4 separate regions of the Homo sapiens genome follow, and regions 1, 2 and 3 are each linked to region 4. The links come from fine-mapping of genetic effects on gene expression. A gene starts in region 4. Each other region holds a variant in brackets. All regions are shown on one strand. Distances are from middle to middle. Region 1 overlaps LOC124901656 (a long non-coding RNA gene). Region 2 overlaps ZNF138 (zinc finger protein 138). Region 3 has its middle 48 kb from the start of ZNF138. Region 4 holds the start of ZNF138 (zinc finger protein 138).

The links.
Region 1: its variant is fine-mapped to the expression of ZNF138 in whole blood (TOPMed, PIP above 0.99).
Region 2: its variant is fine-mapped to the expression of ZNF138 in whole blood (TOPMed, PIP 0.93).
Region 3: its variant is fine-mapped to the expression of ZNF138 in lung (TOPMed, PIP above 0.99).

Annotation. Positions count from the first base shown.
Region 1 is chr7:64,636,333-64,644,440 of GRCh38, reverse strand. It overlaps LOC124901656 (a long non-coding RNA gene), which reads right to left. Exons shown (of 7, transcript XR_007060350.1): 4 at 4,835-4,954; 5 at 1,010-1,489; 6 at 768-871. Among named protein-coding and RNA genes, the nearest start is that of ZNF107, 26 kb to the left of the region's middle. The variant C/T (reference allele first, on the strand shown) is at 3,785.
Region 2 is chr7:64,820,836-64,828,943 of GRCh38, reverse strand. All of the region lies in intron 3 of ZNF138 (zinc finger protein 138), which reads right to left. Among named protein-coding and RNA genes, the nearest start is that of ZNF138, 30 kb to the right of the region's middle. The variant G/A (reference allele first, on the strand shown) is at 3,478.
Region 3 is chr7:64,837,959-64,846,066 of GRCh38, reverse strand. It overlaps a transcript of ZNF138 not described here. Among named protein-coding and RNA genes, the nearest start is that of ZNF138, 48 kb to the right of the region's middle. The variant C/T (reference allele first, on the strand shown) is at 4,139.
Region 4 is chr7:64,790,969-64,799,076 of GRCh38, reverse strand. It overlaps ZNF138 (zinc finger protein 138), which reads right to left and starts at 4,649. Exons shown (of 4, transcript NM_001271639.2): 1 at 4,506-4,649. The coding sequence starts at 4,508. RefSeq lists enhancers at 4,049-4,609, 4,394-4,633, 4,874-4,923.

The DNA.
Region 1 (8,108 bases), 150 kb after region 4:
CTCAGAATTTCTCCTTCCTGCCAACTTGTAAAGAAGGTGCCTTGCTTTTCCTTTGCCTTCCACCATAATTGTAAATTTCCTGAGGCCTCTCCAGTCATGCTGAAATGTGAGTCAATTCAACCTCTTTCCTTTATAAATTACCTAGTTTTGGGCAGTTCTTTATAGCAGTATGAGAATGGACTAATAAAGTCACAATCCCCTTTTGGCCATGCCCAGGTAAAAGAGAAGAGTCACATCTTCTAGGTGATGAACAAAAATATATGACAGAATGCCCCTGTGTGTAGGCCCCATGCAGAAAAGTCACAAAACCTAGGTGTTGGCCTCAGTCCTATATCACAATATGCAATGTATGCAAGGTTCAGGCAGTAAAAGAGAGTCACATCACCTGGATCTGAGCCCAGTAATATGTCAAAATCCCTCATTGGACAAAGCCCAAACAATAGAAGAGTCATATTACCTTGGTGGTGTGCCTAATGATACGTCACAATTCTTTCTTGGTCAGAGCCCAATCAGTAGAAGAGAGTCAATTCACACAGGTTCTGGGTTCAGCAACATGTCACAATACCCTTTGAGGAGAGGGCTCATGCAGGAGAGTCACATTACCTGAGTGACAGGCCCAGATATATGTCACAATTTCCCCTTTGGGGAGGGCTCAGAAACAAAGGGAGAGTCACATAACCTAGGGGCTGGGCCCAGCTATATGTCACAATCACCCCAGTTGGCAGAGCCCAGGCATAACAGAAATGTCATATCATGTAGTTGCTTACCCAAGAGATGTGTCACAATTTTCACTGTGAATAGGTCCCAAGAAGAGTCACATTATCCAGGTGATGGACCCAGAGATATGTTACAATGTTCCCTGTTGGTAGAACTCAGAAAAAGAGGAAAATTACATAACATAAAGGCTGAGTTTAGCTATGTCAGTTATCTCAGTGGGCAGGCCCAAGGCATGAGAGAAAAATCACATCATTAGTAAGTGCAAGGCCTGGTGAAATGTCACAATACTTACCATGTACAGGACACAGGAAGAAGAGGAGAGTCACGTCATTTAGGTGATGGGCCCAGAGTTAAGTCACAATGAGTTTTGTGGGCAGGGACCAGGCAGAAGAATCACATCACCTCTCTGCTGGGCCCAGAAATAAGTCACTTTCTCTTCTGTGAGCACCATCCAGGCAGAAAAGGGAGTCACATCACCTAGGTGCTGGGCCCAGAGTTATGTCCCGCCTTGGTCTCCCAAAGTGCTGGGATTTGCCTCTCCTACAGGCAAAGCCAAGGTAAGAGAAGAGAGTAACAACAAATAGTAAATGGGCCCAGAGATATGTCACAATAGCCCCTGTGTGCAGGCTCCAGGCAGGAGACTCACATCACCTTGGTGCTGGGCCCAGCAGTACGTCACAGTGAACTTCAGAGTTCTGGGCCAAGGCAAAAGTGTAACTACACCTTGGTGTTAGGCCCAGTGATATGTCACAATCTTCCCTGTTGGTAGAACCTAGGAAAAAGAGAAGAGTCACATCAGCTAGGTGCTGGGCCCAGCAGTAGGTCACAATCTCCTCTGTAAGGACCAGGCAGGGGAAGAGAGTCATGTTGCCTGAGTGACAGGTGCAGAGGTATATAACATGATGCCCCCATTAAGCAGGACTGAGGCAGGAAAGTTACATCATTTGGGTGTTGAACGTAGCAATATGTCACGATTTTTTTTTTTTGAGACAGAGCCTTGCTCTGTTGCCCAGGCTGGAGTGAGGTGGCATGATCTCAACTCACTGCAACCTCCGCCTCCTGGGTTCAAGCAATTCTCCTTCCTCAGCCTCTTGAGTAGCTGGGATTACAGGTGCGTGCCACCATGCCCAGTTAATTTTTGTATTTTTAGTAGAGACGGAGTTTCACCATGTTGGCAAGGCTGGTCTCAAACTCCTGACCTTTTGATCCACCCACCTTGGCCTCCCAAAGTGCTGGGATTACAGGCATGAGCCACTGCACCCAGCCAATATTTTACAATTATTCCTGGGGACAGGGCACAGGCAGAAGCCATCTAGTACCAAGATGCAGAACCCAGCAACATGTCACAATACCCCTGTGAGCAGTGCCAAAGCAGGAGGGGAGGCCCACATAACCTTGGTGCAAAGCCCAGAGATATAGCAAAATGCCCCTGTGGGCAATACCAAGGCAGGAGAATAATGACACATCACGTAGGTTCTGAGTTAAGCAATATGTCGCAATTCCACCTGTTGTGCCCAGCTAGGAAAGTCAAATCACTCAGGTATTGGGCAAAGAAATATTTTACAATCACACCTGCATAAAGGTCCAGGGATAAAATGAACAATTATGTACATGTCCCGGTCCTAGGTATTAGAGTCGATACCTCCTGTATGTAAGGTCCAAGTACATGAGTCACAATTTCAACAGGTGACTGGATCCATGCTTGGGAGCCACAGTCCCTCAAGTCCACTGTATATTCTTCATAGAGTCACAGCCTCACAGGTTTGCTGAATCTTGGCCTGAGAGTCACAAACCCACCTGTGGACCAGATCCATGTATGGGAGTCAATTTTCCAACTTTTGACTGCCTCTGGTTGTGAGATTCAGGACCCCAACATTGGCTGTGTTTATGTGGTTGAATGACAGTCTTTATTGTTGGCCATGTGTGCATACAAGTGTCACAATTTTACTTGTGTGCTGGATACTGTAGGGACCCTCTCTGTTTTACTAAGGACATCACACAGTATGCATGAGAGTTGCAATCTGCTCTGAAACCTTTGTACTTGGATCCAGAGATATGTCACAATGCTCTAGGTTTATAACTGTATTTGGGCTTATAACCACTATCTTACCTGTGGTTGTAGGCACAGATATGAGACTGAATATCTCTTAAAATGACTGGTTTTAGATAGGAGGGTCTTCACCTGCCTATAAGCTCGGTTTAGAAATGAGTAACCATGGGCTGGGTGTGGTGGCTCACACCTGTAATGCCAGCACTTTGGGAGGCTGAGGCAAGTGGATTGCCTGAGGTCAGGAGTTCGAGACCAGCCTGGCTAACATGGTGAAACACCATTTCTACTAAAAATACAAAAATTAGCCAGATGTGGGGGCAGGTGGCTGTAATCCCAGCTACTGGGGAGACTGAGGCAGGAAAATTGCTTGAACCCAGGAGGTGAAGGGTGCAGTGAGCCAAGATTGCGCCATTGCACTCCAGCCGGGGTGACAAGAGCGAGACTTCGTCTCAAAAAAAAAAAAAAGAGAAAAAGAAATGAGTAAACATTCCAACTGTGGCCAGATGTTCAGATGTTCACATATGCAATCACAAATCTAACCGTGGACTGCATCCATAAGTTGGATTGAGGATGTCACCATTGGGCTCTCTTCATGTGTCAAGGTGACAGTGCTAATAGTTGGCTGGGTGTGTCTATGAAAAGAAAAATCTCCCCTGAATTTACGCTCTCTGCATCACCCAAGGGCTTTATACAATGTGGGAGAAAGTGGTAATTCTTTATGATCTTTGTACAAAGAGGAGACCCAGCATCTTACCTGTTTCCCTCAGCCTAGCTATAAGAGAGAGTATTTATTTTTACTAGCTAATTTGAGGAATGAGAGTCATCATCACACATAGAAGTTAGGCCAAGATATATGTCACAATCTCATTTGTTGGTAAGGATTGAGCAGGAGAGTCACATCAACCGGGGGCTGGGAGAGGAATATGTCACAATCTTCCATGTGGACAGAATGCAGGCTGAAGAGGGGAGTTACATCTCCTTGGTGACAGACGCAGATATATATCACAAGGCCCTATG[C/T]GTGACAATGCAGATATTTATCACAAGGCAGTGCCCAGGCAGGAACTTCCCTTTCTGAAAGTTTTGGACCCAGCAATATGTCACAATATCCAAAGTATGTGGATTTTGAGAAAAAAAGAGAGTCAAATCACAGAGGTGCTTGGTCCACTGATATGTGAGGCCCAGGAAGAAGAGGAGAGTCACATCACCTAGGTGATGAATAAAAAAATGTTTCATAATACCCCTGTGGCCAGAGCCCATGCAGAAGAGTCTCAATGGACCAAGCCATATGTCACAATACACAATATATAGAGTACCCAGGCAGAAGATGCAAGTCATGTCACCTAGGTGCTAGGCCCAGTGGTACATCACAGTCCCTTTCAGGGCATAGCTCAAGCAATAGAAAAGAGTCACATAAACTAGGTGCTGAGTTTGGCAATTTGTCACAATACCCTTTGAGGGTAGGCCCCAAGAAAAAAATTCACATCGCCTAAATAAGGGGGGCAAAGAAACCCCATCCATACTAAAAATACAAAATTAGCTGGGTGTGGTGGTGGGTGCCTGTAATCCCAGCTACTTGGGAGGCTGAGGCAGGAGAATCGCTTGAACCCTGGAGGCGGAGGTTGCGGTGAGCCAAGATGACACCATTGCACTACGTGCTGGAAAACAAGAACAAAATTCCATCTCAAAAAAAAGGAGAAAAAAAAAAGGTAGGTGTTGGGCCAAGCCATATGTCACAATCCCTGCCATGGACAGGTCCCAGAAAGAAGAGAAGAGTCTCATTATCTAGGTAATTGGCCCAGAGACATGTCACAATAACTCCTGTGGGCAGTGATCAGGCAGAAGAATCACATCACCTGTATGCTGAGCCCAGGAATAAGTCATTCTCTCTTCTGTGGAAATTGCCCAGACAAGCACAGCAAGTCATATCACCTAGGTCCTATGCCCAGAGATATGTCACAATCTTTCCTATGGGCAAGTCCCAGGCAAGAGAGGAGAGACACATTAAATAGTTGGTTGGCCCAGAGATAGGTCACAATGACCCTGTGGGGAGGTTTCAGGCAGGTTCACCTTGGTTCTGGGCTCAGCTATTTGTCACAATGTCTTCTGAGGGCAGGGCCAAGGCAAAAGAGTAACGTCACCTTGGTGCTGGGCACAGTGATATGTCACCATTTCCCTTGTGGGCAGAACCTAGAAAAAAGAGGAGAGTCACATCAGCTGGATTCTGGGCATAGCAATATGTCACAATACCCGCTGTGAGCAAAGACCAGGTAGAAGAAGACAGTGACATCATGGAGCCTCCTGCAGGCAGGGCCATGACAAGACAGTTACATTACCTGAGTGCAAGGCCTGGTGATATGTAACAATGTCTACTTTGGGCAGTGCCAAAGCAGAAGAGAAGACTCACATCACCTGGGTGCAAGGCCCGGTGATATGTCACAATGCCCACTGTGGGCAGTGCTGAGACAGGAGACTAGATCACATTACCTAGGGGCCAGGTCCAGCAACATGGCACATTTTGAACTGTGGGCCGGGCCCAGGCAAGAGAGTCAAATCACTTAAGAGCTGGGCAGAGACTTATTTAACTATCACACCTGTAGGAAGGTGCAGGGATGGTATTAACAAGCCCACACATGTCCGGGTTCTAGGTATGAAAGTCAGCACCTCTTGTATGTTGGGTTTAAGTACATGAGTCACCATCTCAGCAGTGGACTGGATCAGTGCATGGGAGCCTCAATCTTTCCTGCAGACTATCTCACCTTAGTAGAGTCCCAGCCTCACAGGTTTGCTGAATCTTAGCCTGAGAGTCACCAGAACACTTGTGGACCTGATCCACATATGAGAGTCAATTTTCCAACTTTTGACTGCCTCCAGGTGTGAGTTTCAGAATCTCAACAGTGGGCTGTGTTCACGGGAAATGATAACAATCTTTACTGTCAGCAGGGTGTGATATGGGTGTACGGTCAATCCTCTTGGGAGAGATTGACCCAACATACAAGATATGTTGACACTCCCACCTAGAACTAGAACATGTGTGGGATTGTGATCTTATTCCTGGACCTTCCTGCAAGTGTGATTGTGACATACACCTTTACCCAGCACCTAAGTGGTTCGACTTTGCTGCCTGGAGTGAACTCACAGATAAAATTGTGACATATTGCTCGACCCTGCACCTTGGTGGTGTGACTCTACTCTCAAGCCTTGTCATTGCCCACATGAAGAATTATGACATACTGCTGGGTCTTGCACCCAAGTTATGTGAGTCTTTTCTTCTGCCTTGGTGTTGTATACAGGGAGCATTATGATATATTGCTGCATCCTGTGTCAAGGATTTGTGGCTCTTCTGCCTGTGCCTTGCCCACATGGGCCAATGGGACATACTGCTGAGTCTAACACTTAGGTAATGTAACTCTCCTGCCTGGGCACTGCTTACGGGAAACATTGTGACATATTTGTGTACCTATCAACCAGGTTACATAAATCTCTTCTCCTTCCTGATTCCTGACACTTAGGTAATGAAACTTCCCTGCCTGGGAACTTCTTACAGAGGACATTGTGATATATGTGTGTACCCATCAACCAGGTTACATAAATCTCTTCCCCTTCCTGATTCATGCTAACAGAGGGGATTGTGGCTCTTCTATTGTTTTTAGGTTCTGTCTTCAGGGAAAATTGTGACATACCACTGGACCCAACACTAACAGGATGTTACCGTTTCGCTTTGGCCCTGACCTGGAAAGGCATTCAGCCCTATTGCTGGGCCTAGCACAAAAATCATGTGGCTCTTTTGCCTGGAGACACATTGTGACATATCTCAAACTTATCAACTATTTGATGTGACTCTCTATTCTTACTTGCACTTTGCTTTTGAAAGATTCTGACATATCTCTGTCTCTGGGTCCTCTCCTTCTGGACAAACCCCCTCAGAAAAAAAAAAAAGTGACTTATTGCTGACCTCAGCACACAAGTGATGTAATTCTTCTGCCTGGTCCCTGCCCACAGAGAGCACTGCAACGTATTTTTTAGTCTATAAACTTTTGATGTAACTTTCCTCTTTTACCTTAATCCTCCACATGGTCCCTGCCCACCCAGGGCATTTTGACATATCTCTAGGCCCCTCAACTATTGGATATGATGCTCTTTTCACATCTGAGCTTTGCCAAAAAGTGAGATTCTGATATATACCTGTGGGCTCAGCACCTAAATAATATGACTCCTCCTTTGCCTGGGTCCTGTATTCATTGTGTGTTATGACATATGGCTGAGTCCAATACCTACATGATGTGACTCTCCTGCCTGGGTTTTGCCCACAGGGTACTTTAAAATATCTTTTTCTTTATTACCTATGTGATGTGACTCTCTTATTCCACCAGAGCCCTGCCAAATAGAAGGATTGTGACATATCACTGAACACAGCACCTAGGTGATGTGACTCTCTCCTTTTGCCTGGGCCTCACATATTTTGGGTATCGTAACAAATTGCTGGGCCCCACCACTGGGAGATGGGAGGCTTGTGCATGGATCCTGCCTATGTGGGGACCTTTTGATACTTATCTGCATCTATCACTTAGAAGATATGACTTTCCTACCTGCACCCTGCCCACAAGGAAGATTGGGAACTATCACTAGGCCATGCGTCCAGGTTATGTAACTCGGCTGCCCGTGTTCTGCTTTCAGGAGGGAATTGTCACAATCTCTTCTACAGGCAATGCCCAGGTAAGAGTAGAGAGTTACATCAAGTAGTTGACAGGCCCAGAGATATGTCACAATGTCCCCTGTGGACAGAGTTCAGGAAAGAGACTCACATCACGTTGGTGCTGGGTCCAGCAATATGTCACAATGCCTTCTGAGGGCAAGGCCAAGCCAAAGAGAAAAGAGCAATGTCACTTTGGTGCTTGGCCCAGTGGTATTTTACAATCCCCCACATGAGCAGTGATCAGGCAAAACGAGAGTGTCATATCACCTGCGAGATGTGCATAGAGATATGTCACAGTGCCCCCTGTAGTCAGGGTCTAAGCAGGAGAGTTACATTACCTGGGTTTTGGACTAAATAACATGTTATAATGCCTTATGTGGGCAGGGAACAGGCAGAAGAATCACATACCTTGGGTGTGGAGCCCAGTGATATGTCACAGTGCCCCCTATGGGCAGTGCCTAGGTAGGAGAGGAAATTCACATCACCTGGTTACTGGCCTAAAAAATCTGTCACGATTTTTTTTTCGTGGCCAGGGTTCAGGCAGAATGAAGAGTTACATCTCCTAGGTGATAAATGCAGAAATATGTCAAAAGGCCCCCTGTGGACAGGGCCCAAGCAGAAGCCTCCCAGCCCCTGGGTGTTGGGCTA
Region 2 (8,108 bases), 30 kb before region 4:
GTGTTGTAAATATATCCATACTGCTCAATGTAATATACAGATTTAATGCAATGTTTTCCAAATTTCTCATTGCAGTTTTCAAGAAATAGAAACAGCAACACCAAAGGTATATAAAATGTCGAGAGACAATAAAGTACTGAACAAACTTCAAAAAAAAAAAGGAACAATGTCGGAGGCAGAACAGTTTCTGATTTCAAAACATATTACAAAGCTACAGAATTAAAACAATTTGGTATGAGTACAAATGTTAAAAAGTAGACTAATAAAATAGAATGCAACATATATATACTTTCAAATATACAGTCATATGAAGAGTCATTTTTATACTCATAATTTTTGCAGAATTGTTAGTGAAAGCCAATAGGTAAAAGCAATGCAAATTTCGGTCAACAAATCATTCAGTAAATATAATTTAAAATATCACTCATTTTTCAAAAAGCAGGAAATATTGTAACAACTATAAGCATAAATCTTCATAACATGCAAAATGAAATGGGCCAGCCATGGAAAAGATTGTATTAAGATATATAAAGCAGTTACACTCTTAGAATCAGGAAACAAAATAGTGTTTGAAAACTGCCATGAAATGGAAAAAAATGGTAGTTGTTTAATGTGTAGTGAGATGTAGCTTTGCAAGGTAAAAACATCCTAGGGATATGTTGCATAACATTAAGATGACTAAACTGAATATTTAAAAATACTTGATTGTAAATTTTTTATGTGTTTTTGACAGGTAAAAATAAACAATACCTAAAAAAAAACCAGAATTATGATAGTTTTTAAATTATCTTCAAATCCAAAAGTTTTTTCTCTCAAACAAACATAATATAGGTTCACAAATAAATGTTGACATTAGGAGAATTTTTTTGACTTTTTACCTAGACAAGATTAAACAACCATTCACAATAAACCAACACCACAAATAAATAAGTTATAAAAAACACAAGGATAATATTCATAGAGGCAAACAGAGAATTATATCGGCAGTAGACATATGGTTCATATTTGACTTTGCTCCACACTGTCTTAAATTGTACAGAGATAAATATTGTCATACACAATATAAACATCAAAATACAACTGATTGGTGTGAGGTGGCATACCCTAAAATATCTAACTCACAGGTATAAAATTGCAGAAGAAAATTAAAACATGAAAGGTAAAACTTACTAGACACCATCAAGTACATCAATATATTCATGAAAGAAATCTTAGAAGAATATTGAAAAAAAAGTAATCCAGAGCTTTCTTGAAGACAAAAATGTCTGAAAACTTTCCAAATTTTGATGTAATAAAAAAAATCTAACTAATAATACTTGATTCACAATTGACTTCAAAAACAAGATAAAAATAAAGACTCTCCAAGATAAAAGGTGAGGATGTTTATTACCACTAGAACACTTCTACAAAAAAATGTTACATGGTTAATCCCAGCACTTTGGGAGGCCGAGGCGGATGGATCACGAGGTCAGGAGATCGAGACCATCCTGGCTAACACGGTGAAACCCTGTCTCTACTAAAAATACAAAAAATTAGCCAGGCGTGGTGGCGGGTGCCTGTAGTCCCAGCTACTCGGGAGGCTGAGGCAGAATGGCGTGAACCCGGGAGGCAGAGCTTGCAGTGAACCGAGATTGTGCCACTGCACTCGAGCCTGGGTGACAGAGTGAGACTCTGTCTTAAAAAAAAAAAAAAGTTTCATGGTGGCCAAGCACAGTGGCTCATCCCTGTAATTCTACAGCTTTAGGAGGCCAAGGCAGTCAGATCACTTCAAACCAGGAGTTGAAGATCAGCCTGAGCAACATAGTAAGACACTGCATATTAAAAAAAAAAAATGCTAAAATGAGTCCCTTATGCTGAAAAATGATGGACACCATTATAAAAACATTTATAAATATAAACCTCTTTATTATAAATGTATATAGACACATATTCTTTACTATAATAATGATGGTGCATAAAACCCTTAAACTTCTTCTACAGAATATGAAAAATGAGGCCAGGCACAGTGGCTCACACCTGTAATCCCAGCACTTTGGGAGGCCGAGGCAGGTGGACTGCTTGAGGCCAGAAGTTTGAGACTAGCCTGGCCAACATGGCAAAACCTTGTCTATACTAAAAATACAAAAATTAGCTGGCAATTATGGTGTGTGCCTTTAATGCCAGCTACTTGGGAGGCTGAGGCACAAGAATTGTTTGAACCTGGAAGGCAGAAGTTACAGTGAACCGAGATAACACCATTGCACTCCAGCCTTGGGTGCAATGAAACTCTGTGAAGACAGTGAAACTCTGTCTAAAAAAAAATTTTAAAAAAAGGTTAAATGAAATATTAATATATTAATAAATACACACATTTAAAAAATTAAGGCCAGGCTGGGTGGCTCACACCTGTAATCTCAGCACTTTGGGAAGCCGAGGCGGGCAGATCACCTGAGGTCAGGAGTTTGAGACCCGCCTGACCAACATGGAGAAACCCCGTCTCTACTAAAAATACAAAAAATTAGCCGGGCATGGTGGTGCATGCCTGTAATCCCAGCTACTTGGGAGGCCAAGGCAGAAGAATCGCTTGAACCCGGGAGGCAGAGGTTGTGGTGAGACAACATCGTGCCATTGCACTCCAGCCTGGGCAACAAGAGCGAAACTCTGTCTCAATAAATAAATAAACAAATAAATAATCAAAGCACGTCACTACACAATTAAAATAAACAAAAATTAAGGCAGTAAAACAGAAAAAAAACTACAGGAAACACATAAAACAATAACAAACTAGTAACTAATTTCCTTTCTTTAAACAATCAATTTAAATATAAATTAAACTATTCAATAGGAAGAAATTAATCCTAGGGTTTTGGGAGGCCAAGGGGGGCTATTCACTTGATCCCAGAAGTTCAAGACAAGCCTGGGTAACATGGCAAAACCCTATCACTACAAAAAATACATAAATAACTAGCTGGGTGTAATGGTACTTACGTGTAAACAGCTACTTGACAGGGTGAAATAAAAGGATCATCTGAGTTTGGGAGTTTGAGGCTGCAGTGAGCCATGATCACACCACTGCAAACCAGCCTGATTGACGAAGTGTAACAGTATCTTAAAACTAAATGAATAATGGCCAGGCGCGGGGGCTCATGCCTGTAATCCCAACATTTTGGGAGGCCAAGGTGGGCAGATCACCAGGTCAGGAGATCGAGACCATCTGGCCAACATAGTGAAACCCTGTCTCTACCGAAAATACAAAAATTAGCTAGGCATGGCAGCAAGCACCTGTAGTCCCAGCTCCTCAGAAGGCTGAGGCAGGGGAATCGCTTGAACCCGGGAAGCAGAGGTTGCAGTGAACCGAGATTGTGCCACTGCACTCCAGCTTGGCGACAGAGCAATACTCTGTCTCAAAAAAAAAAAAAAAGTTAATAAATAAATAGCAAAAAAAAGAAAAAGAAAAAGAAAATGCCCGAGTGGCTTAAGAAAAAAGCATACAATCCC[G/A]GGTGCGGTGGCTCAGGCCTGTAATCCCAGCACTTTGGGAGGCCAAGGTGGGCAGATCACGAGGTCAGAAATCCAGACCATCCTGGCTAACACGGTGAGACTCCGTCTCTACTAAAAATACAAAAAATTAGCCGGCCCTGTTGGCGGGCGCCTGTAGTCCCAGCTACTTGGGAGGCTGAGGCAGAAGAATGGCGTGAACCCGGGAGGCAGAGCTTGCAGTGAGCCGAGATCGCGCCACTGCACTCCAGCCTGGGCGACAGTGCGAGACTCCGTCTCAAAAAAAAAAAAAAAAAAAAAAAAAAAAAAAAAAAAGAGCATACAACATGCGGCCTACAAGAGACTCATTTTAGGCCTGGCACAGTGGCTCACACTTGAAATTCCAGCACTTTGGGAGGCTGAAACCAGCCTGGCCAAAGTGGTAAAACCCTATCTCTACTAAAAAAATTAAAATACAAAAGTTAGCCAGGTGAGGTGGTGCATGCCTATAATCCCAGCTACTTGAGAAACTGAGGCAGGAGAACTGCTTGAACCCAGGAGACAGAGGTTGCATTGAGCCAGCCTGGGTGACAGAGCAAGACTGTATCTCAAAAAAAAAAAAAGAGACTCATAAGCGTTGAGTCAAATAGGCTGAAAGTATCAGAATGGAAAATATCTTTATTCTATGCAAATAGTAACCACAATTGCGTGAGGAAGTCATAATTATATTAAACATAATATGCTTTAAGTCCAGTACTAGCAAGAGACAAAAACTGATATTATGTAATACTAAAATGGGTAAATTTATCAAGAATTTATAACTATTATATTTGTCTATGTATGTGCATGTACAACATCAGGGCTCCAATATGTAGAAAGCAAATATTGACAAAAGTCAAGTAAGAAATACATAGCAACATAATAATTGCAGAAATCAAGACCCCATTTTCAATAATAAATAGAAAGTTCAGATAAAAAATCAAGAGAAAACAGAAAACTTAGACAACATTATAGACTATATTAATTATTTTGCATACACAGGAATACCCGAGTAGATAATCTGTAAAGAAAAAAGGTTTATTTGCTCACAGTTTGGCAGACTGTACAAGAAGTGTGTGTCAGCATCTGCTTCTGGTGAGAGCCTCAGGAAGCTTACAATCATGGTGGAAGGCAAAGAGTAACTGGACATGTGACATGGTAAGGGACAGGAATTGTGGGGTAAAGAAGCTAGGTTCTTTCAATGAACCAGCTCTCATGTGAATTAAGTGTAAATTTTTTTATTACCAAGAGGATGGTGTCACGCCATTCATGAAAAATTTGCCCCCATGACCCAAACACTTCCCTAGGTCCCACCTCCAACACTGAGGATTATATTGCAGCATGAGGTTTGGAGAACATGGACATCCAAACCATATTACAGACCAACTAGGCTTAACAGTTATGTGCAAACTTTCCAGTCAAAAGCAAGAGAATACAGAATATTCTTATCTGCATCTGGTGTATTCTGTTATAAATCATACCAAGCCGTATTAAATTTATTTATTTATTTTTTTGAGGTGGAGTCTCAATCTGTCACCCAGGCTGGAGTGCAGTGGCACGATCTCAGCTCACTGCAACCTCTGCTTCCGGTGTTCAAGTGATTCTTCTGCCTCAGCCTCCAGAGTAGCTGGGACTACAGGCGCGTGCCACCACGCCCAGCTAATTTTTGTATTTTTAGTAGAGATGAGGTTTCACCATATTGGCCAGGCTGGGCTCAAACTCCTGACCTCGTGATCCACCCGCCTCAGCCTCTCAAAGTGCTGGGATTATAGGTGTGAACTGCTGCGCCCAGCTGCCTCATTAAATTTAAGAATACCAGCTGGGTGCAGTGGTTCATGCCTATAATCGCAACACTTTGGGGGACCAAGGTGGGAGGATCATTGAAGCCAGAAGTTTGAGACCAGCCTGGGCAACATAGTGATGTCTTGTCCCTACAAATAATCAAAAAATTAGTTGAACATGGTAGTGCATGTCTGTAGTCACAGCTACTCAGGAGGCTGAGGTTGAAGGATCACTTGAGCCCAGGAGGCTGAGGCTGCAGTGAGCCAAAAGTATGCCACTGCACTCCAGCCTGGGTGACATAGTAAGATCCCATCTCAAAACAGCAACAAATGCATTTAAAACCAAAATCATACACTGTGTGTTTTCTGACCAAAACTGAATAAACCTAGGAATTAAAAGCAAAAGTAGAACTGGAAAATCTAAAAATATATAAAAATAAAACATACTCTTCAACATATTCTTGCTCAAGGGTCAAAAAATTTAATTTTTCAGCCAGGCGCAGTGGCTCATGCCTGTAATCCCAGCATTTTGGGAGGCCGAGGTGGGCGGATCACCTGAGGTCGGGAGTTCAAGACCAGCCTGACCAACATGGAGAAACCCCGTCTCTACTAAAAATACAAAATTAGACGGGCGTGGTGGTGCATGTCTGTAATCTCAGCTACTCAGGAGGCTGAGGCAGGAGAATCACTTGAACCAGGGAGGAGGAGGTTGCAGTGGGCCAAGATCGTGCCATTACACTCTAGCCTGGGCAACAAGAGTGAAACTTTGTCTCAAAAAAAAAAAAAAATAAAAAAATTAATTTTTCAAAGATGTCAATACAACATACAGCGGTAAACAAATTCAACATAATCTCTAACAAAATTCTAATAGCGCAATCTTTTTACAGAAATAGTTTAAAATTTTTAAATTTGATTAAAAACTATAGCAAAACATCCATTAAAAAGAAGATGCATTATACTTTCTGATTTCAAAACATAATAAAAGCTACAGTAACAAAAACAATGTGGTATTGACACAAAAATAGATAAACAGATGAAAGAACAAGACAGCCCAGAAATGAACCCTTCTATATATGATCAAATGATCTTCCACAAAGTTGCCATGAGCACACAATAGAGAAAAGATCGTCTCTTGGAAAAGTAATGTTGAAAATTGGATAACACTGATAAATTAAGTTGGATCATTTTCTCGAACCACATACAAAAAATATTTTTTTAAAAAAAATGTTTAGACCTAAAAAATCACTGTTAATCTCTTAGAAATGAATGTAAGAAAAAAACATGACATTGATCTTGGCATTACTTTCTTAGACACAACATTAAATGCATGTGAAACAAAGAAAAGAACAGAAAAATTGAACTACACTAGACTTCAATATCTCTGCACATTAAATACAGCATTCAATAGAGTGATAAGGTCTCCTAGAAAATGGGTGAAAATATTTGCAAATTGGCCAGGCACGGTGGCTCACGCCTGTAATCCCAGCACTTTGGGAGGCCAAGGTGGGTGGATCTTGAGGTCAGGAGATCGAGACCATCTTGGCTAACACGGTGAAACCCCATCTCTACTAAAAATACAAAAAAATTAGCCAGGCGTGGTGGTGGTCACCTGTGGTCCCAGCTACTCGGGAGGCAGAGACAGAAGAATGGCGTGAACCCAGGAGGCAGAGCTTGCAGTGAGCTGAGATCGCGCCACTGCACTCCAGCCTGGGTGACGGAGCCAGACTCTGTCTCAAAAAAAAAAAAAAAAAAAAAGACAATATTTGCAAATCACATGTGATAGGAGTTATATTCAGAATACATAAACAACTCTTAAAACCAAATAAAGAGCAGCATGATGGCTCATGCCTGTAATCCCAACACTTTGGGAGGCCAAGGCAGGAGGATCACGAGGTCAGTAGTTGGAGACCAGCCTGGCCAACATGGTGAAACCCTGTCTCCACTAAAAATACAAAAATTAGCCAGGCGTGGTGGCACCTGCCTGTAATCCCAGCTACTCAGGAGGCTGAGGCATGAGAATCACTTGAACCCGGGAGGTGGAGGTTGCAGTGAGCTGAGATCATGCCACTGCACTCTAGCCTGGGCAACAAAGTGAGACTGTGTCTCGAAAACAAACAAACAAAAAGAATATAAAGTTGAATAACTTGATTTAGAAATGAACAAATAATTGAAGTAAATTTTCATTAAAAATGATACACAAATGGAAAAAGCATTTGAAAAAACACACTAAATTAATATTTGTAGAGAAATGCATAATAATTACAATAAAAAACAATTACCTAGGCTGGGCACCGTGGCTCACACCTATAATCCCAGCACTTTGGGAGGCTGAGGTGGGTGGATCACAATGTCACGAGATCAAGACCATCCTAGCTAACACAGTGAAACTCCGTCTCTATTAAAAATACAAAAAATTAGCCGGGCGTGGTGGCAAGCGCCTGTAGTCCCAGCTACTCAGGAGGCTGAGGCAGGAGAATGGCGTGAACCCAGGAGGTGGAGGTTGCAGCGAGCCGAGATTGCACCACTGCACTCCAGCCTGGGCGACGGAGCCAGACTCCGTCCCAAAAACAAACAAACAAACAAACAAACAAAAAACAAAACAAAACAAAAAAACCAAAAACAAAACAAAAAAAAACAATCACCTCACACCAATTAGAATGGCCATCATCAATTTTTTTTAAAAACACCAAATCTGTTGATAATGCAATAAAAATAAACTCCATGTTGATTGTTGGTGGAAAACAAGAATGCAGTCATTATTTTAAAATTTTATAAATGTTTCTCAAGTAATTATAAATAAAATTATGGGCTGGGTGCAGTGGCTCACGCCTGTAA
Region 3 (8,108 bases), 47 kb before region 4:
CAACTGATCTTTGACAAAGCAAACAAAAACATAAAGTGGGAAAAGGACAACCTATTCAACAAATGGTGCTGGGATAATTGGCAAGCCACATGTAGAAGAATAAAACTGGATCCTCATCTCTCATCTTATACAAAAATCAACTCAAGATGGATCTAAGACTTAAATCTAAGATCTAAGACCTAAAACTATAAACAAAAACCCAGAGTGGGAGGAAATTTTCAAAATTTATACATCTGACAAAGGACTAAGATCCAGAATCTACAATGAACTCAAACAAATTAGCATGGAAAAAACAATCTCACCGAAAAGTGTGCTAAAAACACGAAAAGACAATTCTCAAAAGAAGATATAAAAATGGCCAGCAAACATATGAAAAAATGCTCAACATCACTAATAATCAGGGAAATGCAAATCCCAACTACAATGTGATACTACCTTACTCCCACAAGAATTGCCATAATCAAATAATCAAAAAATAATAAATGTTGGTGTGGATGCAGTGAAAAGGGAACACTTCTACACTGCTGGTGGGAATGTAAACTAGCACAACCACTATGAAAAAGAGTGTGGAGATTCCTTAAAGAACTAAAGGTAGAACTACCATTTGATCCAACAATCCCACTATTGGGTGTCTACCCGGAGCAAAAAGTTATTATACAAAAAAGATACTTGCACATGTATGTTTATAGCAGAATGATTTGCAATTGCAAAAATGTGAAACAAACCTAAATGCCCATCAATCAACGAGCAAATAAACTGTAGTATATATATGATGGAATACTACTTACCTATAAAAAGGAAAGAATTAATGTAATTCACAGCAGCCTGGATAGGACTGAAGATTATTATTCTAAGTGAAGTAACTCAGGAATGGAAAACCAAACATTGTATGTTCTCACTCATAAGTTGGAGCTAAGTTATGAGGATGCAAAGGCATAAAAATGACACAGTGGATGGTGGAGACTCAGAGAGGAGTGTTGGGAAGGAGGTGAGAGATAAAAGACTACAAATTGGGTTAATTATACACTGCTCAGGTGATGGGTGCACCAAAATCTCACAAATCACCACTAACAAATTTACTCAGCCAGGCACGGTGGCTCACGCCTGTAATCCCAACACTTTGGGAGGCCGAGGCGGGCAGATCACGAGGTCAGGGGTTCGAGACCAGCCTGACCAACATGGTGAAACCCCGTCTCTTCTAAAAATACAAAAATTAGCTGAGCGAGGTGGCTTGCACCTGTAATCTCAGCTACTCAGGAAGCTGAGGCAGGAGAATCACTTGAACCCGGGAGGCAGAGGTTGCAGTGAGCAGAGATTGTGCCAGTGTACTCCAGCCTGGGTGACACAGCAAGACTCTGTCTCATAAAAACAAAACAAAACAAAACAAAACAAAAAAACACATAAAACTTACTCATGTAACTGAATACCACCTGTTCCTCGAAACCTATGGAAATTAAAAAAAAATAAAAAATTAAAAAGAGTGAAAGGGACCTCAGGGCTCATCCAGCCTCACCTTTCTCATTTTGCGGATGCAGAAGAGAGGTTGTAGACAGTGCCAATCTCACATAGCCTTTCAGAGATCGACTCCAGACCTAAAATCAGACCCTCCAACCCCAAGCCCAAGTTCCCTTTTGCTATCACTGTCTCCTCAAAGAAGAATGAATCAAATTGAGAAAGGGAGTGGTAAGACCCACATCCAGACTCTATTCTTCTGGGCACTGTAGGACCTTTTCCATTCCCAGTGCTCATGTTATGCCCAAACCCTGAGAAAATGTGCCCTTTAAATCTCTGTGCACCCCTGGAACTAGCAAACATTAAAAATAATAACAACAGGTTGGGCACACAGGCTTGGGCCTGTGGTCCCAGCTAGTTGGGAGAGTGAAGAGGGAGGACATCTTAAGCCCAGGAGTTCTAGGCTGCAGTGACTTTTTAAAAACTTAACCTTGGCCAGCGCAGTGGCTCAGGCCTGTAATCCCAGCACTTTGGGAGGTCAAGGCGGGCAGATCACAAAGTCAAGAGATTTGAGACCAGCCTGGCCAACATGGTGAAACCCTGTGTCTACTAAAAATACAAAAATTAGCTGGGCATGGTGGCGCACACCAGTAGTCCCAGCTACTCAGGAGGCTGAGGCAGGAGATCTCTTGGACTGGGGAGGTGAAGGACGCAGTGAGCCAAGGTCACACCACTGCACTCCAGCCTGGTGACAGCGAAACTCCATCTCAAAAAACAAAAAAATAAAAAAAATAAACTAACCTCAAAATTCCAGGGAATCAAAAGAGAAATAGGTAAGTCAGATTAGTTCAAATTAAAAAGCTGCTGCATGGAATCTGATACAATCAACAAAATGAGACAACTAAAAAAATGGAGAAAATATTTGCAAATCATTCATGTGACAAGGGGTTAATATCAAAAATATATAAGAAACTCAAATGACTATATGACAAAAGACTATTAAAAAGAATGAAAGGCTTAAATATTTTTCAAGACATACATATGGTCAAGAGACACATAAAAATGCTCAATATCAGTTATTATCAGGGAAAGGAAAGCAAAAAAAACTATATCAACTTATTTCTGTTAGAATTACTCCTATTTTAAAAATGTGTTAGTCAAGGTGTGAAAAAATGGCAATGCTTGCACACTGATGGTTTGAATGTGAATGAGGACAGTCATTACAAAAAACAAAATAAGGATTTCTCAAAAAAATTTAAAATTAAACCACCAAATACAGCAATTTTATTATTGGTTATACATCCAAAACAAACGAAATCAGAATGAAGAAACATGTGCCTGTTTTTTACAACACTCTTCACAATTACCAAAATATAAAATCAGTGGTTTCAACATTTAATGAGTAAATAAAGACAATGTGGTATATACACACAATGGAATACTATTCATCTTTAAAGAAGGAAATTTTATTATTTTCAATCACACGAATTAACCTGGAGGAAAACATTATATTTGTCGAAATGAGCCAGGCACAAAGATTATTATTTCATGATTTCACTTACAAAGGGATTCTAAAAAACTTAATCTTATTGAAGTAAAGTGGTGGCCACCAGACACAAGTTATTTAGGAGAAAGGAGGGTTTGAAAAGATGTTGATCAAAAAATACATAATTATAGTTAATAGAATAAGTTCAAGAGATTGTTTTGTACAGCATAGTGACTATAGATCAAAATAATGTATTTGTAGTTTTGAAAAATGCTGACAATGTCACATGCTCTTGCCACAAAAATGTTAACTATGTGAGGTAACTACCTAGAATTAAGCATTTGACAATGTATATATACTTCCAAGTATTATGTTTTACAAAATAAATACACATTTACTTATTTATTACAGATGGTGATGACATGGAAGACACTAAAAGGGAAGGTGTTGCTTACAGACTTATGACTGGCCACTCTGGGAACACAATGAACAAGTTTGCATAAAAAGTAACACAAAATAATCTAAAAGTTGCCATCATCTCCAGAATTTTTCCAGAGAAAATGACCAAGAAGTTGACGACAGGTGACTAAGAATATAAACTGTACACTGACCTTCACTCACTAAAAAGACACATAAAATAACAGGGTGAAATTCCTCTGAGTTGTAATATCAATATGGACAAGAAATATTATTCCAAATTTCAAATCCACAGAGGTCATTTTATTATTTTGCAACCTTTAACATTCACACTTAAAAATAAAAGATTCAGCAGGGCACAGTGGCTCACGCCTATAATCCCAGCACTTTGGGAGGCAGAGGAGGGCAGATCACGAGGTCAGGAGTTCGAGACCAGCCTGGCCAACATGGTGAAACCACGTCTGTACTAAAAATACAAAAATTAGCTGGGTGTAGTGGCAGGCACCTGCAATCCCAGCTACTAGGGAGGCTGAGGCAGGAGCATTGCTTGCACCCAAGAGGCGGAGGTTGCAGTGAGCCAAGATCACGCCACTGCACTCCAGCCTGGGTGACAGAGCAAGATTCCATTTCATAAATAAATAAATAAATCTGTGTTGTGCTATATCATAGAACATTAAATTTAAAATTCCTCACCACTAACTCTTAATAATTTAATTTCTAAGATGCATTTTCTAGCAAATATTAAATGTGTCACACTCTGTGTAAGAATTTAATAAGATTTTC[C/T]GTTTACAAACAGAAAAACAATGCTAAGTTATTTAATCCTCTGATCTATGGACAGTGTATGCGTTTTATCTTAATTAACTGATCTGAAAGTTATATTGATAAGCAAACTCTCTAACTAAAACCAATTTTTGAGTGCATTAAAAATACCAACTTTCTCATCAAAACCTACAAAGTACCATGTAAAATGACATGGCATGAAGACAATGAGAAAACTGTAGCAATCACGTAGAAAAAAGGGAGAGGGGCTGTGATGAATACACAGAAGACACATAATAAGACAAACAAAACTAAAGATAATTAGGAAATAAAAGAAACAGAGTTTCTCTTTAGGTTCAGCAATATTTAGCTTCGCAGCATGAAAACAATTGTTATCTCCACGGGAAGAATCAATCTTATTTCTTCACTATTGATATTTTCCCTCTCCGACTTGAACTTACAAACTAACTCTAGCAGGAATATTTATGGCTTATCATGGAGCATCTGCTACACAGCAAGCACTGTCATGTTTGTTCGCCACATTTATATATTAAAAAACATCATGACTTATGAAGCATCCCGAGTTCTTATCTGAACAAATTGCCTCAATAAATATATTTATGTCAATTATAATGAGAACAAAAAAAGTTAAAAAATACAGGCTTATGTAGAATTCTCCAATTAAAAGAAAAAATCAAATGTCCTAATAAAATACACAATTTTGGAAATACATCTAAAAATTGTTCAGTGTGCATTAAATTTTATAAAAATCGTTATTAGTCATGACCAGCTCACGTAATGAATACCTCATAAACTATAAAAGAAAAAATCGTAAGAGACAAGAAAATTATAGGTCTAGCATGAGTACTAGGCAAGGAAAAACAGAAATTTTTCATGGGGAGATTCTGAACCCTAAGTCAGAAGATTTTACAGTAATAAATTTAAAAAAAAAGCAGAGTATAGATTTGCTTTCAGCATTTTTGAGGTTTTCAGTTTCAGTTAATAAGTCACCTTATTAAAATATTTGTTTTGTTACAATATTGCTCTATTCTTCTGAAAATAGGTACAGACTCATCCTCATATATACTCTATAATTTTCTTGCACCTAAGGTTTATTTAGAGTAACATACGTGCATAGCTAATTTTATGTAAATTAAAACTAAAATTCTGTATGTTTGCAGGCAGAGAGAGACCAAATGTTCAAAGAAAAATACATAACAAATTTTTTTAAATGTTTAAGCAGAACTCAGAATTTTAAGACTCAGGGTTTTATTTATACTTGTAAATAATTTTTATTTCACTCATAAAAATGACCCTGTAGTCAGTAGCATTTAATTGTACATTTTAAAGTAAGTAAAAGTGTAGAATGGGTTAGTAATCCAAAAGATAAATGCTAGAGTTGATGGAAACTTCATTTGCCCTTATCTGATTAATACATAAATTATATGACTGTATCAAAAAATGCCATATAATGACATAAATATAAACAGATACTATGTACACACAAAAATTGAGAAAAATAAGTTTAAATTATAAATAAAAAATTTAACCAACGGGAACGATATTCATTAATTTATTTGCAGTTTGAAGCCACTGGCAAAATAAATTATTGGAGATGTTAGTCCATTATGTTATCAAATAGTCTATTGTTACCATCTTTGACCTACACCCTTGAGTAAGGTAGGATAGGTAAAAGTTAGTGGCATAATAATACTTCATTGAATGCACAGTGGTCTTATGTTAAAATTTTTAATTAAAAAATTAAGTTTATAATAATCTAAATCTTTAAAACTGTGATTGGACTCTGGTGAAGACTCCAAGATGGCGATCGCCACCTCAGATACCCCGACTCAGCATTTCCAGGTTCACCTTTCCTGTTCCCACCACCCCGACTAACGCGCATGCCCACTAGGACGTGTCACACTCAGAAGCGCGAAACTCAACCGACCCCGCCCCTACCCCGCCCACTCCTCACCCAGCATCCATAAAAGTGCGCTGCACCTTTGGCACAGTGCGACTTCCCTGGCCCTCCCGCTGCGGACCAGTGAACCTCACCTGAGAGCTCAATAAAGAAGATTTTTGCCCTCTTTGTCTCGCCTCTCCGCCTTATTGATCCATGGTGCCCTTCCATTGCCTTTCATTGGTGCCGAAACACGGGAGGGGACACCTCCTAAGCCCCCCAGAGGCTCGGGAAGACTCCCCTCCTGGTCGGATCAGGCCTCTCCCTCAGTCAGGTCAGGCTTCTCCTCCACGGCCATCGGTCCATTTCGTCCGGTTACTTGCCGCCAGGTCACAGCTGCTGCAGCTACTCCAGTCCAATTCGGCAGACGCTGGGTGAGTACCCCTCCTTTTTCCTTTTGTCCATTCCTCCCTGGCCGAGAGTCATGCGCACACCCAGGGAGAGTTTCCTTCCTCAAGGGAAGGCCAGTCCGGGTCACCAGGAGACCCAAGTTTACTTCCCCAGGGGAAGTCCAAATCGGCATTGACGACTCAGAGACGTCTGTGTCTGAAGTAGCCGATCCGAGGCTCCAGGAGCTGCGTGGTCTGAGTGACCCCAGAAGGACGCTTCTGCTGTCCCTCAGACGGCTGCCATAAAGGGAAGAGGATGGGGTCCACCCAGTCCAAAATCACGCAAAACACCCCCTTAGGGTGCCTCCTGCGCAACCTCCCAACTTTACAACTCGACCAAGATTTAAAACGAAAGCAACTAATTTTCTTCTGCACAGTTGCCTGGCCGCAATATACCTTAGACAACCAATCTCGCTGGCCCCCCGAAGGCACACTCAACTTCAATATCCTAAACGACCTTACCAATTTTTGTCAGAGGCGAGGCAAATAGTCAAAAATCAAATTTGTTCAAAGGTTCTGGGACCTCCGCTCTCGTCAGACCGCTGCCGCCAAGTGTTTTCGCTGGCACAAGTCCCTCTGGCTAGCCTTCCCCTTGAAGTCTGACCAGCCTCTCTTGCCATTAATCTTGTCCACGGCCCCCATCTTAGTCTCTCCGCCGCCATCTCCTTCTGCACCACTGCCATCTTACTACCTGCTTCCTCACCGCCGCCATCTTACTTCCTTTTTTCTCTGCCACCATTTTAGTTCTTCTGCCGCCATTTGGCCGCCATTTTAATTCCTGTTAGTTCCCATTTGTTCTTTTAACCCTGCCCACCTAACTCCTTGGCTTCCATCTTACCCCCATTCTTATTTCCACCTCCCTGTAGTGCCATACCAGTCCACTACATCTACAACTCCTAACACATTCGCTGCGGGCAGTGATATCCGCTAATCCTGGATGAGGCAGCGGAGGGCCCCCAAACCCCTATCCAGGACTTAGTAAAGCTGGCGTTCAAAGTTTTTAATTCCCGAGAGGAGGCGGCTGAGGTACAACGACAGGCAAGACTGAAACAAAAAGTTCAGCTCCAAACCCAAGCCCTGGCAGCTGCCCTGCAACCGGCATTCCCTAAGAGCCCCAGCAGGAGAGGTAGAGGTACGATCTCCCAGGCCCCGTCTGGCACCTGCTTCAAGTGCGGCAACTCAGGACACGGCCAGCCGGTGCCCTAGCCAACAGCAACCGTCCTGCCTGCCTTGCAACTGTTTCAAGTGTGGCAATCCAGGTCATTGGGCAAAACAGTGCCCAAACCCCAAGCCGCCAACACGCCCGTGCCCTAACTGCCAACAAATGGGGCACTGGAAGTCAGACTGCCCCGGCCTCGGAGCGGCCGCTGTGTCTCCACATGGCGACCCCTCCTCGGATGGCGAAGGTGCCCTCCAGCTCCTCCAACTGGATGACGACTGAAGAGGCCCAGACTTGGGAACCCCTCTCACCCTTGCCGAGCCCAGGGTAATGCTTCAGGTAGCGGGTAAGTCCATTTCCTTTTTACTAGACACAAGGGCTACCTACTCTGTTTTGCCATCTTTTAGCAGACCCAGCCGCCCCTCCTCAATCTCTGTTATAAGGATTGATGGCATTCCCTCCACCTACCGCCAGACGCCTTCACTG
Region 4 (8,108 bases):
AGAACTAAAAAAACTATTTTAAAATTCATATGAAACCAACAAAGAGCCTGAATAGCCAAGGCAATTCTAAGCAAAAAGAACAAAGCTGGGCATTACATTATCCAACTTGAAACTATTCTATAAGGCTGTAACCAAAGCAGCATGGTAGTGATTAAAAAAAAAAAAAAAAGGCTCATAGAACAATGCAACAGAATAGAGCCAAGAAATAATGCCACACATCTACAACCATCTGACCATCTGATCATCAAAAAAGCTGACAAGATCAATGTAGGAAGAATTTCCTTTTTTTTTTTTTTTTGAGTCGGAGTTTCACTCTTGTTGCCCAGGCTGGAGTGCAATGGCTCAATCTCGGCTCACCACAACCTCCGCCTCCAGGTTCAAGCGTTTCTCCTGTCTCAGCCTCCTGAGTAGCTGGGATTACAGGCATGGGCCACCATGTCCGACTATTTTTTTTGTAGGGTTTCTCCATGTTGGTCAGGCTGGTCTCAAACTCCCGACCTCAGGTGATCCACCCGCCTTGGCCTCCCAAAGAGCTGGGATTACAGGCGTAAGCCACCATGCCCGGCCAGAATTCCCTATTTAATAAAATGGTACTGGAATAACTAGCTAGCACTATGTATAAGATTTTCTTTTTTGTATTTAAAAAAATAGCCGAATTTTTCTTCAGCGGTCAAATAAAATACTTCTTAATCAAAATATAGTTAAGTTTATCTCCTTCCCACAGCTCCTGAACTTTGAGCTACTCAGTCTGAGCCAACATACAACCCCATTTTATGTTTCTCCTAAAAACTTGCTGACTTCAGGGTAAAACATTTTCTAATCTAAAATCTGATTTGGGCTGAGCGTGGTGGCTCACGCCTGTAATCCCAGCACTTTGAGAGGCTGAGAAGAGCAGATCACCTGAGGTCAGGAGTTTGAGACCACCCTGGCCAATATGGCAAAACCCCATTTCTAGTAAAAATACAAAAATTAGCCCGGCATGGTGGTGGGCGGCTGTAATCCCAGCTTCTCAGGAGGCTGTGGCATGACAGTCACTTGAACCCAGGAGGCAGAGGTTGCAGTGAGGTGATATCCAGCCACTGCACTCCAGCCTGGGCAACAAAGTAAGACTCTGTCTCAAAAAAATAATTTAATTAAAAAATAAAAAATAAAATCTGATTTATACACCCTCCATTTGCCATTCCCCTCTCACCTTCTAATCTTTTTTGCTCCTCCCTAAGAAAGCCTTTATCTGCCTAAACTTTGCAATCCTTAAAGATTATATAGTTGGTACTTCCTTCTGTTGCAGTATTTTAGAATTTTTTAAAAAATAAACCTAATTTTGTTTTATTTTACAAAGTCTAGAAACTGCCTCAAAACAATAACAACTTCATCCTGAGTATGACCCTCCCAATCCCCTTCCATCTTAATGTTTACTGCATCTGCCTGTGGGTCTCCAGTTTTCCAGGGCTCTGTAGCTTCTCTCAGTATAAAGGTTCTTCCATGGCTGGGGTGAGCAGGCTCCGACATCCGCAGGGGAGGCTTCCTAGAAAGAACTAACTGGGCCTTTAATAACCTCCCTTCCCTTTGTAGGCTCAATATTAGCCTTAGCTTGCAGTCACTGGCGCAAGCTTTAATTTCCATGTCGGAGTTGTTCAAATGGTTTTTTAAACTGAAAAATTCAGCAAAATTACTCAAACACAGTGTTTATATAAGGGAAGGAAATTTTAAAGCACTTACGTCACATATCTCAAATGCAAAAGTATGTAATCTTTTAAAACGATAAATAATTATTTTATTATATCCATTAAAAATGATGTAGTAAACAATTAGTCATATGGGAACACTTCTAGGATAGACCAAGTTTCATCTTAAAAAATTTAGCATTAACCTCAGAAATCAAGATGACTGGATACAGAAGAGAGGTATTCACTGAAATGTACCCTGAAAAAGGAGGAACTGATATTTTCATGAATCTGTATAACTCACCAATTATCTACCACATCTTCTTGTGGAAATGTATTCATTTTCTTTCTTTCTTTTTTCTTGAGATGGAGTCTCGCTCTGTCGCCCAAGGTGGAGTGCAGCCGCACGATCTCAGCTCACTGCAACCTCTGCCTATGGGGTTCAAATGATTCTCCCACCTCAGCCTCCCGAATAGCTGGGATTACAGGTGCCTATCACCATTCATGGCTAATTTCTAATTTTTGTATTTTTAGTAGAGATGGGGTTTCACCATGTTGGCCAGGCTGGTCTAGAACTCCTGACCTCAGGTGATCTCCCTGCCTTGGCCTCCCACAGTGCTGGGATTTCAGGCATGAGCCACCGCACCCCGCCGGAAATGTATTCGTTTTCCACAGCCAAAATGGAAGAAGTATTTTCCCTATTCTTTTCCTTGGTAGCATTCTAAAAGCTAAGCCTTGGAATACTCTTGGACATCACCCAGCCATAAAAAAACAGACCTGAGAAAATTCCTAAACTCAGTCTGGGAAAGAAAAAGGTAAATGAGAATACTTAACAAATAGAATATATGATTAGATATTTTTTTCCAAAACCCATCTCTTTCATGCCCATTCTAATTATCCTCTTACCTTTTAGTCCTACTAATAAACTGCAAGTTACAATTAAAACACTGAAGTAAGTGAACAAATCTTTTCAGGGTGACAATCCCAGGGAGTGGCAGTGCTGATTAAAAAACAGATGTATCTCACTCACATGTCAAGTCAAGCCACCCAATCACTTGAGAGATTCTCCCACCCCATCCTGCTCACTTAAGTGCTAAACGACCACCCTCTCTGAAGACCACCCTCTCTGAAGACGCTGCACTATGCCTCAGTGACTGCCCCAAGTACATTTCACTTTGCAAGTTCTTGAACCATCTCACTGGGGTAAGGTTTGATTTGTCTTTTTGGATACTATCATTTCTTTCACAAATCTTAGAGAATCCAGTGGGCCGAAATTATTTCTGTGTTCTCCCCTCAATACCAGCATATGATTGATTGACCAGCAATATGTCTCCGGAAATGGACACTGGGTTGGTTTGAAGACAATCTTAACTTCTCAAAGGGTTTGCTTTTCAAAGGAAGAGTACACCAGGAGATTCCTCTCAGCCCCAGGGCATTCACCTGCTCCCTTGAGAGGCTACACTCCAACCTCAGGTTGTCCTCTGTCTCCCATTCCCAGATAACCAGAGTTCATTCCAGGCCAGGAGCTGAAATTTACCAGAGATTCTAGCATACACAGCCACAGTGGATATTTTGATTTATCCTCAGAAAGTACTGAAACCCAGGACCAAGGAAAAAACTGAAGAGTGACTAAGGACACATTACCTTATAAAGTTTCCAAAGGGAAACCTTGACCCAAAAATATTCTGATAAGATCTCTGTACCTAGGGAAGATTTAAAAAAAAAAAAAAAGGCACAGAGATTTTTTACAATACAGCATCAGGGGATGAGTCTTTGGTTTCTTCTCATGGGAAATATTTACAAACAGATAACAAATCTTTTTTAAAATGCCATCCATGCTTTGTCAAAAAATGATTAATTAAAATACAGTATTTCAAATGTACACTAAAGGACAAATAGTTGATAATGTGAATTAGGAAGGGGAAGTTGGCATTTGGGAATGTCAGAAGGAACTGGAAATTTAGTATTTTACTGCAAGCCAGAGTTAGGCTGAAGGAATGGGAAATGGGGAGGGGGAGGAGTCTTGAGACCCTGCTTGGGACACATGTGAAAAATGAAGGGGAAGATCTGTCCCCTGTGGAGTGTGAAAATAATTAAGTGGCAGGCAATTAGACTGAGGTCGCTCCAGTCCCAGGGTTTCTGGTTTTAAAAAAATCTAACTCAAATGCATTTTTTTGTAAATTACTACCTTGTGAAAAATAAAATTCATGTTTAACCAACTGTAAACTGCCAATTAACCTCTGATTACATGACCAGGAAATTTCCTCCTTCATTGTACAAATTAAGAAACTACATAACTCTACTAACCAATTACTGAATTTGGTTTTATCATACACCTTATACAAGTGTTTCCTTCAAACCCCTCCCACGGACCACTACTGCAAACCACAGCTGGGTGCTCCACAATTCTTGAATCACTGTTTGATTAAATTAATTTTTTTGCGGTGACTTTCATAAATTTTAATAGGGGAAAAGAGGGACAGGGAAGCCCGCGGAGGAAACCTCTTCCCATTCATGAACCCAGCACCCCGAGTCAGGATTCTCCCCTGACGACCCTCCCGTCGTCTCTGCACAATCGCTGCGGGTGCAGAGCTGCTCAGAGAGGGCTCCAGGCCAGGGCACAGTCACTGCGCAGGGAGGAGACAGGACGCCTGGTTCCGGCTGTCAGCCCAGCTGCCATGCTATGGCTTAAGGGGACTGAGGGCCGAGCTGTGCCAAGAACTCGGGGCCGCGGATTTTGCAGCCGACTGCGGGAAGACCCGAGTACTGCCACAGCCACTTCCGACCGGTTCCAACCAGCTCCCTCCCCCTCTCTCGGGATGTCGGACCCAGCACTCTCACCATTTCTAGGCTTCCGGGGGATCCTGGCGTCTTAGCTGTGAATCTCCCAATAACCAGATCACAGCGCCACAGAGGCTGGGCCTCTAGGAGTAAGAGGACGCAGAAAAGTGAAGGCCAGACCTGCAGCACCCGCTGCAGCGAGACAAAGACCCCGCCGCCTCCCGGAAGACGTCATGTCCGCTCCAGCTGGGTGCCTGATTGGACCGTTCCCAGCCCGGCGTCCCTGATTGGATAACGTTTAACAACCCGCCCCCTCAGGCCCTGAGTGACAGATGTGCTCAGGTGCTGGGCTGAAGGAAGACAGAGTTAAACCTAAGCAGCAGCCTTTTCCAGAAGGGCTTCCTCCCTGAGCTGAGTCAGGCCCACCCCAGAGGGCATTTGCATTTAACCTTGTGTATAAGGTCGTATGCATTTATAAATAACATATAGCTATTCACATCTGAATATAACAATTATTTTTAAATTCCAGATTTTATAACCGTACTGGCTTCTGGTCCTTTGAGCAGGCAGCCTGAGATTTTTTTCTTTTTTTTTTTTGAGACAGAGTCTCACTCTCACCCAGGCTCAAGCACAGTGGCACGATTTCGGCTCACCCCAAACTCCGCATCTCGGGCTCAAGTGATTCTCCTGCCTTAGCCTCCTGAGTAATTGGGATTACAGGCACCCGCCTCCACGCCCGGCTACTTTTTGTATATTTAATAGAGACAGAATTTTGCCATGTTGGTCAGGCTGATCTCGAACTCCTGACCTCAGGTGATCCACCTGCCTCGGCCTCCCAAAGTGCTGGGATTACAGAGCACATGTGAATTCCAAATTTTCTAGTAGTCAAACTTTAAGAATAAACAGGTGGAATTCACTCTAATTGAGATGGTTAGTCATTTAGGCTGGGCTCAGTGAGACCATTCTTGTGACCTCAGCTGAGTTCCTTCAGACATGTATCATCAGCTGCTTGTTGACTAGGCAGCTGTGCTTCTGGGGGTGAGCTTCTGCTTCTGAGGCTGTCAACAGAGGCAACTTGCTTCTCCTCCCCATACTATTTTATCTTCCATCTGGCTAACATGGGCTTTTTTCGCGGAGATAGTAGCCTTCTGAAAGAAAAACAGAAGCATGCAAAACCATTTGAGCCTACGCCTCAAACTAGCACACTGCACTGTTCACAGGTTTTTACTGCCCTGAGCAAATAAGGCCAGCCAGATCTAGGGTTTGGAAAACAGAACTGGATCTCAATGGAAACAGCTGTAAATGCACCTGGCAATGGGCATGGATAGCGGAGGGATGAAAAATTGCTAACATTTTTGCAATCAGTATCATTCTGCCTTTTTTTGCATATGTGGTTTATATAACTCTTCCACATCAAAAAAAAAAAAATTTGTGCAAAGACCCACAGCTATTAAGTGGCTGGGCTGGGACTCAGAATTAACTCCATTTGACCCTTGAAATCCTGGAGAGTGACACTTCTAAAATAGAAGCCAGATTTCTTTTAGATTTGTGCCCATATAGCACTGTTTATTATTATTGCTAGAAATAATCTTAAGAAATTGAAGAAGCACACGGTAGCTCACATCTATAATCCTAGCACTTTGGCAAGCTGAGATGGGAGAATCACTTGCGCTCAGGAGTTCAAGTGCAGCCTGAATAACATAGTTAAGATCCTATGTGCATGAAAATTTTTTTTTTTTTAATTAGCCAGTCATGGCCGGGCGCGGTGGCTCATGCCTGTAATCCCAGCACTTTGGGAGGCCGAGGAGGGCAGATCACGAGGTCAGGAGATCGAGACCATCCTGGCTAACACGGTGAAACCCCGTCTCTACTAAAAATACAGTCCCAGCTGCTCGGGAGGCTGAGGCAGGAGAATGGCATGAACCCACGAGATGGGGCTTGCAGTGAGCCAAGATCCCACCACTGCACTCCAGCCTGGGTGACAGAGCGAGACTCCGTCTCAAAAAAAATAAAAAATAAAAATAAATAAAAATAAAAATTAGCCAGCATGAGGCAATCCTGTAGTCCCAGCTACTCAGGTGGCAGAGGCAAGAGGATTACTTGAGCCTGGAAGGTCGAGGCTGCAGTGAGCCATGATTGGTTACGACACTGCACTTCAGCCTGGGTGGTGAGAGTGTGATCCTTTCTCCAAAAAAAAAAAAAGAAAAGAAAAGAAACAGAAAAGAAAAAAGTTGCAGGAGCATTTCAAAAGGACATAGCATATGTGGAAAAAGATAGATGAGGGATGAGTTGAGAAAATCAAAGCCCAGCAACACATTACTTATTTTTTATCATAGATAAAATCTGTAAACATCTAAAAAAAAAAACAAAACCTTCAGAGAAATTGAATGTAACAGAGTCTAAATGAACAAAGAATGATTTGCAAATCAGGCAGCCTGTGGGCCCAGAATAGGCTCAGAGAGACTCCAGCACAGCAACATGGTAAAAAAATTGATCAACAGAAAAAGCAAAGTGGCATACAGAAAATGAAATTGAGGTACAGAAACAGCCAAATTGATTACAGCTTGGGATTTGCCTTATTTGAACATGGTTTGAAGAGTTGATGTCCTTTTATTGGCAAAATCACAGTGGCTGGTACAGGAATGGGTTATAATCTACTTACATATCCAGTTAGGTTTCAGTTTAGTATGTACCAAAAAAAAAAAAAAAAGAAAAACAAACAAACAAAAAACCTACTGACCAAAATTAAACATGAAAACAGAGAGCTTCAGGCTATAATTTAACAATTTCTCCTTTTTGGTTATCTTCTCAATTTTGAGAGATAGACCAAGTTATCAGCTAAATAAATGGTCTCCTCATTTCAACCAAGCAGCCTGTTTCTTAAACCCCCGTAACTGAATCTCTGTAATACGTGTAATATATTTCTGTATAATCTCTATAATATATTTCTCCATGTGCAACTATGCATATTAGCAACTACACAGATACTTTTCTGTTTATGCAATAAGTAATCTCAAGAAATTCCATTATTTAGCACAACTTTAGTAAAAAAAGTCTATTGTGTAACCATAGCCTTTGCAGTAGAATCTGCTATAGAGACTATTATGAAGGATAAATGTCTAACCAATGCCTGATTTTTTTACCCTGAACCATGAAAAAAAAAAAAAAAAAAAGACCTAACAAATGATGCTTATTTAGAAGAGTAATGGCCAGGCAATGCTCTGAAACTTATTGTGAATGAGTTCTTTTTAACTTCTGAAGTAGGTTAAGAGCAGTGGACCTATATTCTGTGTTTCTGATATTATGAGGCAACAAATGTCCCATTAGAATTTCTCACCCACATTGACCCTTCATCTTGTACCTATCAAGGCATAAGTTTGTTCATATATAAAGTTGGCTGCAAAATTCTCTAGAGAATTAGATAATTAGTAGAGACGGGGTTTCACCATGTTGGCCAGGCTGGTTTCAAATGCCTGACCTCAAGTGATCCAACCGTCTCATCCTCCCAAAATGCTGGGATTACAAGCACGAGCCACTGTGCCCAACCTAATCCCAGCACTTTAAAAAGCCAAGAAACAAAGACTGTTTAAGCCTAGGAATACAAGTCCAGCCTGGGCAACATGGCAAAACCCTATGTTTACAAATAATACAAACATTAGCTGG